Linked DNA regions of Homo sapiens: region 1 is linked to region 2. Evidence: fine-mapped expression QTL. A gene starts in region 2. The other region holds a variant in brackets. All regions are shown on one strand. Distances are from middle to middle.

What was found. PIP is the estimated chance that this variant, and not a neighbour inherited with it, causes the effect.
Region 1: its variant is fine-mapped to the expression of SUCLG2 in whole blood (TOPMed, PIP 0.97). The same link has a PIP of 0.9 or more in esophagus mucosa.

What each region holds. Positions count from the first base shown.
Region 1 is chr3:67,373,002-67,377,395 of GRCh38, forward strand. SUCLG2 (succinate-CoA ligase GDP-forming subunit beta) reads right to left here. Exons shown (of 11, transcript NM_003848.4): 11 at 1,718-2,858. The coding sequence ends at 2,743. Among named protein-coding and RNA genes, the nearest start is that of MIR4272, 150 kb to the left of the region's middle. The variant G/T (reference allele first, on the strand shown) is at 2,538.
Region 2 is chr3:67,652,252-67,656,645 of GRCh38, forward strand. It overlaps SUCLG2 (succinate-CoA ligase GDP-forming subunit beta), which reads right to left and starts at 2,361. Exons shown (of 11, transcript NM_003848.4): 1 at 2,252-2,361. The coding sequence starts at 2,335. SUCLG2-DT (SUCLG2 divergent transcript) reads left to right here and starts at 2,446. Exons shown (of 7, transcript NR_109992.1): 1 at 2,446-2,851. RefSeq lists a silencer at 1,973-2,652 and an enhancer at 2,168-2,667.

The DNA.
Region 1 (4,394 bases), 280 kb before region 2:
TAAAATAGGCCCTTGGGCCTTAGTTTGCCAACTCCAGATCTAGAAAAATATGAAAGAACATATCCTTTTCACTTCCCCACATTGTTTCCTTCCCCACTATGATATATATTTTCTCGCTTATTTTAATTTTGAACATATAGTGTATTCTACAAATGATCACAATCAAACATTCAAATATTTACTTTAGTAATGTGAAAAAATAATATTCCTTCTAATTTTTATCAAGGCTTTGCACTTAAAAAACAATATAATTCTTAATGACATTTTTTTTTTCCTCAGAGAGAAAACTGAGAGGAAGAGACATGAAAATAAAATGTAGAAGAATTGTAATTTAATTCTTGGAGGAGGGGATAAAGCAATTAAATCATTTATGTGATTATTTCATAAAAGGATTAATAACAAGCAAATAGCCTTTTATTTTCAAATAAGCTCAAAGCCAAAACAATCAAAAACACTGATTACAACTCAAGATGAGATTTTGGGTGGGGACACAGCCAAACCATATCAGGTAGTTAATATGTTAAATGTAAACTTGTCTGAGTTTTTTATGGCCTATATTTATTGTATAGAAGACCACAAAAATTATTGTAAATGAACCGGGGCCAGATTCAGGAATAGGTTACTGACCTGAAACTGATCACTGGAGTCATATTCAATTTTGGGAGGTGTCTTAGAATTACCAAGAGAAGCTTCTTTCCTTCCTCTCTCCTTCCTCCCTCTTTCTTTCGTTTATTTGCTCATTTATTTTCTCTTTCCCTCTGCTCCCTCTCTCTTTCTCTTCTGAGGATGCTAAATTTGAGAACCTCACATGTAATGGCCAGCAGCCATTATCCACCTGTAAAAATGGCCTGCCTGAGAATAAAACAATTAGAGACAAGCTACGCTAAGGATGCAAAAAGAACAAGCTCTGATGGCTTTGAGCTTATTTGAAAATAAAAGGCTATTTCCTTGTTATTAACCCTTTTATGAAATAATCACAAAAATGATTTAATTGCTTTATCCCCTCCTCCAAATTGGGTTGACTGGAAACATCAATATTTACAAGTGATTCAAACATAGTCCTCTTCAGAGATCAAAAATTTAAAAATGTTGTCTAGTTGACATAATATAGGTTATTTTTTTTACTGCACCAACTAGTGATTAAGCTATCAAAAACCAAAACACAACTAAGAAGACATTGTTAATATTCTTCATTCATTGCATGGGCATTAAGAAAGGATGTAAGACTGATCTATCCAATAGTTTATTTCTCCATGGCAAACATGGCTCTAAACAATAATGACTTTCATACTTTTGTCCACACATAAAATTTATGAGAACAAAGTAAGCTGGTAAAAAAAACAAACAAAATAGTTTGGTCTACTACATATTTATACACTGAAAGGAAAATTAATGGTGGCAATTGAGCCTCACTTAATGGAATGAGTTATACTGGAGTATCTCCCTTTGCGTTACGCAGACTGACATCACAGTTCAACCTGTCAGACATCTGAGATACATTCCTGGGGTTCTGGTTTGTGTATAACTTTTATGGATTCAATAATCTCCTAACACAGAAATGGGTATCTGATAAAGTTGAGTGGAACTGGAATAATCCTGGAATGACCCAAATTATCAAATTTTAGAGGCATACCTAAGACACTAAGACTAGTGTCTTTGTAAAAAAAAAAAATGTTTGAGGAATAAAATTGAGTAAAATGAGAGATACACACAGATCTTACAGCTTACAAAACATAATTTTATTTAAATTTGTATAGATAAAAATCTACCAAAATTTAAACAAAAATTTTATCCAAATCCTTTCCCACAACAAAATTGGACATCATGGAAAAAAAAAACACATTCAAATAAGGTTCCCATCTTTCTACCATAAACTGGTAGATTCTGGGAGGATGAGGAGTAAGAGAGAAACGAGGAGAGAAGATAGTGATACTAAACACAATTTGATCTTCAGTGTTGTCTCATCTTGAAATATCTTAATAACAGAGATTTCCATAAGAATCAGGATTCATTTTTGACACAAAAATGGAAGCTTCCACTCCCAAAATCACAAATAAGGCTTCTGGTTTTCTTTTTAGTGTGAGGTAAACAGTATATTCAATATTAAGGCAAATGGTAAAAACACATGGATGGTATATTAATGCAGATATTCCATTATTAAATATATTTTGGAATACTCACGGATTTTTCAAACATATGTTAGAATTAGAAACCTGTAAAATCTGCAGTAGTGTGTAATAGCTATTTGCTTGAATGTCTTAGCAGTGCCTTTTTAGTAGCTAATATGTTCAGTGTAATCTTATGCCTTTTTAGTAATTAATATATTAAATATAATCTTGTCTGAGTTTTTAAATGGTCTGTTTTTCTTTTTCATTATGTAGGATTAGATGCCCACCAAAATTCTTGTAAATGAAGCAGGACTTGATTTCAAATTCTGTCTATACACACAATATTTGGCCACATAGACCACTCCCCAAAGTCTGCAAAACACTGCCTACTGGGCAGGCTTACAGTGACAGAAAAGTATGAGAACACAA[G/T]ATATTATTTTTATAAAGACCAAAATCAGATTTAGGCTGTCTAGATATCTTATTCCAGAAAACACAGATTTAAGATTTTTCAGTGATTCTTGCCTTCCCCCTCCCCTTTTCTTCCCCAATGAGATAACCATTTCTTTCACAATGATGAACCATCCCTTTTTACGGAAAAATGGCTTTCTTTCTCCATTGGATCAGGACAAAGACATCACTTCTTGGCCACACTGGCCACAGCCTTCTTGGCTGCATCCTCCAGGTCAATGGCTGAAGTAATGGGGAGTCCGCTGTTGTTGAGTATCTTCTGGGCCTCTTGGACGTTGGTTCCTAGAAGGGGGACAGGGAACAATCACTGAATGAAACTAGAGGTGGCGCCTTATGAAGTTTGCACAAGGACACACAAGACTCACCTGTCTACAGCTTTTCACTAGGAAATGAATTAAATATAGGTTCTCATCAAGGTCACTGACAGAAAAGATTATGTGATGAAATTTATCTCAAGCTGTGGTCCAGCTAGAAAAGAAGATGAAAGCAAGGGCTTGCAAGAGGGAAATGAACATATTTTACTGATGGAAGCTGAGTTGTCTGCTGATAATCACAGCCATGTGGATTTAATGCGGTTTTGGCCCACACCAGAAGTCACTTGTCTTAAAGCCCTCTCAGACGTCATCAGGGGTTTGGGCTGTGACCTGATTTGAGAAAGGAAGTTCCGAGAATCTGCCCAGCTATGTCCACAAATCCACTGCTTTGGAGACTCTGGCGCATCCAGCATGTCCATTTCTGCCTTCTCCTCACTCTATAAAATGAAATGGGCTGAGCCCTTCAAAACGGGCAAAGCAGCCTCTGATGGCAATCTCTTGACTGTTCCTGGTGGATCTGGAGTATCTTCTGGCCAAGTCACTTCATTCAAAGGTGTGCTTGGGGACTATTTAACATGAGAACTGCTTTTCTGCCATTTTAGAGTGAACAACTCCTGTAGGAGAAATGTAATAGAATTTAAGTGTCTAATGAAATATCTCATCCTACATCATTTCCTGTGCTTTTATCTAGTTGGCAAGACAGAGCCTATTTATAAACAAAGACCTTGAAATATAGGCCTTGGAGAACTTGCCTTACCACAAAGAGTGCAGATAAAAAGAGGCACTGGGTCAGCACATTTCATATAAAGAGGCAAATGCTGGATTAAATAGAAATGGGTGGATTGAAAAGATGATGCAGCACTGATTCCCCTGGGACCCTGGGTCTACCCAAGCAGCAGTGAAGATGGCCGCTTGGCACTGTGTCTTCACCTTAAGGCTCACCTACTCCTGTTTTTACAGAGGAAGCTGGTGAAAGTCCTCTCTGGAAGGTGAAAGCATAAAATGTGGGAAGCTGCTACCTAAAATCTCCATGCTGGCTCTGCCATGTACTTGTTATGTAGTTTTGGGTAAATCGTTTAACTTCTTTGAGCCTTAACTTTTGTTTCCATACAGAGCACTATCATCCTCGTAATCTTCCCAAGAACTAATATCATTAAGTGCTTATGTATGCCAGGCACAGTGCTAAGTAACTTATACACAGCATATGAAATCTTTACAAAAACTATGAGTAGTCCTATTGTTCCTATTTTACAGATAAGGCAACTGAGGCACAGAGAAGTTAAATAACTTTTCCATGGTCACAGAGGCGGTAAGTGTCAGAGATGGGACTTGAACTGTTCTCTGTAATTATAAACGCTGCATGTTCTAAAGATATGCTAGTCTGCTTACCTACTTGAAAAATGAGGACAGTATAGCTGATGGTATAGATTGTGATGAGAAGCAAATGAAATGAGTGTAAAAGCATTTTTGTAAATGGTGCAGTATCTGTGGCAGGCCTGGCTGG
Region 2 (4,394 bases):
TTCTATGGGTATCTTTGAGAGACCAGTTAAAGTTATTTCTCTAAGCAGAAACTGGGTCTTTTATTTCTGTACAGACAACAGTTTTTCACAAGGCCTGGTGGTATAAAATAGGTCTGGGCCAAGAGTGGCAACAGATTTCTGAGACACTTGGTGAGGATTCTTAAGTATGATGAGAGAAGTGGGCCATGTTTAACTGCAATGTCTGCCACGGGCAAGGGACTATGGAAACGTAATATCAAATCAGTGTACATGAAACAGATCATAGGAAGCACCCAAGAATTTGAAAATAGCAATACTCACCATTTTTATGGACAATTCTAAGATGGTCATAAAGAAAAAAATAAAAATGTGTCAGTGGTGCTAATGACTTGGATGTTATATAGTTACTACTGGCATGCAGATTAATTTGCATGTTGATATAATATATTTTCATGAGGAAGTATATACTCACCAGGAAACAGCATGGTGTAACGGAAACGTAAAGGTAAGCCTTTACTCTGGAATGCCACAAACTCTCACTGTATCGTTGAATATGTCATTGAACTTCTTTAGGCCTCAATTTCTCTACCCATGAAATGAGCTGGCTGGACTAAATGATTGCTAATGTCCATTTCCAGTTCTTGGACACTGTGTACCTTTCTATCTTTAAAAAAACCTACTTTTACCTTCTAAGAATTTACAGAAAAACACATCATCCACAAATATGTAAATCACAGTAACCAGATGGGGCGTGCTAACAGATCTTTTTACCCAGTTTTCTTGACAAACCAAGAGTATCTCTCCCCAACCAGATTTTCTCCTGTGTTGCGTTCAGCCTCTTATTTCTTGGTTAGGGAAGTAGGCTTCACATATTTCAGCTAAACACTCTGCATTTTCAGTTTCTCTGTACAATTCATGAGTTTTCACTGCCCTGGGCCCCATGTTTCTCATCAATTCAAGTCTACACTCATGGTAAGCACCCTAGTTCTTGTTTTTTCTAACACTTAAATAATGAATAGGACTTCATCTCCTAGAGCTATTCTCCTTACTCTATTACAACAGTTATTAGTGAGTTTTAATTAGACAAAACTGCCATTCCTTTTGCTACCTCACTATACTGTCAAGCACCTATTAAGAATATTACAGTAGTAAGTATTAGCACCTTTTAAATTTACATTAACAATAACAGAGAAATGGGGAGGCAGGAAATGAAAGGAGAGGGGTAAAAATAGCTCACAGATGTCATAACCAAAGTTTAGAGGAACTCAAAAAATCATTAATCACTATTTTTTAAATTTTCTAAAAAACTATACTATGCACATCCTGGTTAAAATTGTATGAGTGATAATTTGCCTCTCATCAATTAAAAATGGGGAAATAGGCAAGGTCATTAACTCTGCTGTGGCTGAATCCCAGACTGTGCTTTCTTTAAAAGGGAAGAGAGATAGTCTACGGAGACTAACCAGTTCAGTGGTTGAGTGATTTCTACAAGAGTCATCACCAACTCAAAACTTTCCTGAAGTCCTTCTGACTATTTTAACGCTTGCCATCTGCAGAAGGTAAAAATCTGCTAGAGGCCAAGTTCCAATCGCTATCCAGCCCACCACTGACCCTCTTTGATTTCATTCTCCATCAACAAGGAGGACATGGACAGGGTCAATGGTCTAATGCGTTTTAGTGACAGCCCTGATTTTTCATTGGAAAGAGGAGAAAGATCGTTTCCCATTTTTCTCCTTGACCCACGGATTTGACCAACTCAGGCACATTAAAAGTCTGCAAAAGCAGGTAGCCTGCAGGAAGTTCACCCTAGGGGGTGAGTTCCTAGTTGGGCTGAAACGGGTTTCCAGGCATGTTTATCACGTGGTCTAAACGTGCTCAGGGTTAGTGCCAGAAGTTTGAAAAGCAGAATTAGTAGAGCTGACAATAAAACCTCAGGGCTCCAAAACCCGGTCCAAGAAACTTTTCTTAAACTTGCGTCCAGCGCCTGCTTCAGCGCCTTCGCCATGAGTCTGCGCGGGCAGACAGCGGAGACTCTAGTGCGTTGGGTCGCTCATACCCCGAGGCACCCGGGGCTGCCGCCGCGCCGCCCCTGCCCCACACTGGAGCGGGGTTCCCTGCTGCGCCTGGACCCGGCGCCGCGTCACCTCCCGAAGTGGGGCGCCCGAGGGGCCGCGCAGGGGGTCAGGCGGAGACCAAGAGTAGCAGGGGGCGAGGGAAGCCCGGGCAGGCCGGCGCCGCTGCTGGCGCCCGCAGCTCCTGCCCCCACGCTCACCTGGGACCCGGCCGCCAGGAAGCGGGGCCGCAGCGCTAGGGCTCGCAGAAGCTTCCCGGCCTGCGCTGCTACGGGGGACGCCATCTTAAACAGGAAACTCGGCACGGGGCAGTAGGGCGGGCGCGGGCAGGGGAAGGAGGCGGAGGAGGAGCAGCGGGAGGAGGGGTCAGAGGAGAAGCGGGCGCGGGGAGGAAAAGGAGGAGGAGGCAGAGGCGGTCTGGGCCGGGCCGGGCCTGACCCCTGCGTCCCGGGGGCACAGGCGTTCTTAAGGCTGCAGAGCCCTGGGTCCCCCACCCGGCCCCGGTTCACTTTGAGCGGTCCCAAGGCCTGAGGGCCTACTGTCCAGTCCCCAGGTTATCGTCCTGAGCAAAGACAGACCCCGAGCCCTGCGGTCTTGGGGCTCAAACAGTCCCTGGATGGCCAAACAAGCAAATATTCGCCATGGCAGTGGGTGCTGGAAGGGTGGCTCACGGAGCTGACGCCCTCCGCAGAGAACCGTGGTCTAGTCCTGCGGTCACGAGGCCTATCTGGGACAGTGGTGTTTGAGCTGAGACTTTAACGAATAGAGACAGGTGAGGTTCCTGCAGCCCAGGGCTTCAGGTGAGTCAAGGAGAGGCCATTGGAGGCTCTCCATCCCTTAAGGAGTTGTGGGTGTTTTGTTTTGTTCTATCCTTAACCTAAAATCAATGTAAAGCTGAGAGATGAAGCCGGGTGGGTCGGTTGGGGACTTGGAGAACTTCTCTGTCTAGCTAAATGATTGTAAATGCACCAATCAGCGCTCTGTGTCTAGCTAAAGGTTTGTAAATACACCAGCCAGCCCTCTGTGTCTAGCTAATCAGGTGGGGACTTGGAGAACTTTTCTGTTAGCTAAAGGATTGTAAATGCACCAATCAGTGCTCTGTGTCTGGCTAAAGGTTTGTAAACACACCAATCGGCACTCTGTAAAAACGCACCAATCAGCGCTCTGTGTCTAGCTAAACGTTTGTAAATGCACCAATCAGCACTCTTTAAAAAGGGACCAATCAGCACTCTGTAAAATGGACCAATTGGCACTCTGTAAAATGGACCAATCAGCAGGATGAGGGTGGGGCCAAATAAGGGAATAAAAGCTGGACACCGGCGCCAGTAGTGGCCCCTAGTTGGGGTCTCCTTCCAGGTTGTGGTTGCTTTGTGCTTTTGCTTTTTGCAGTAGCTCTTGCTGCTGTTCACTGTTTGGGTCCGCACTATCCTTATGAGCTATAACACTCACCACAAAGGTTTGCAGTTTCACTCCTGAGGTCAGGGAGACTGCGAACCCACTGGGAGGAATGAACAACTCCGTATGCCCCACCTTCGAGGGCTGTAACACTCACTGCAAAGGTCTGCAGCTTCATTCGTGAAGTCAGCGAGACCACGAACCCACAGGCAGGAACAAACAACTCCGGACGGGCCACCTTTAAGAGCTGTAACACTCACTGTGAAGTCTGCGGCTTCACTCCTGAAGTCAGCGAGACCACGAACCCACCGGAAGGAAGAAACCCCAGATACATTTGAACATCTGCAGGAACAAATTCTGGTCACGCCATCTTTACCGCGAGGGTCTGCAGTTTCATTCTGGAAGTCAGCGAGACGATTAAGAACCCACGGGAAGGAACCAATTCCGGACACAAAGCTATTGGAGGATTTTAAGCCCAGTAATCAGAGTGATAAAAGCAACATTCATTTGGAGCTGTGAACCCCAAATACCTGACACAGGTCTCAATCAATTTAAGAAGTTTATTTGGCCACAGTTAAGGACACGTGCCTGTGACACAGCCTCAGGAGGTCCTGACATGTGCCCAAGGTGTGGTGGAGGACACAGCTTGGTTTTATACATTTTAGGGAGATATGAGACATCAATATATGTAAAATGTACATTGGTTTGGTCCAGAAAAGCGAGACAACTGGAAGCAAGGAGGGGCTTCTAGGTTATGGGTAGATAAGACACAAAGGGTTGCATTCTTTTGGGTTTCTGATTGGCCTTTCCAAAGGAAGCAATCAGCTGTGCGTCTATCTCTGTGAGCAGAGGGATGACTTTGAATAGAATGGGAGGCAGGTTTGCCCTAAGCAGTTCCCACCTTAACTTTTCCCTTTACCTTAGTGATTTGGGAGTCCCAAGATTATT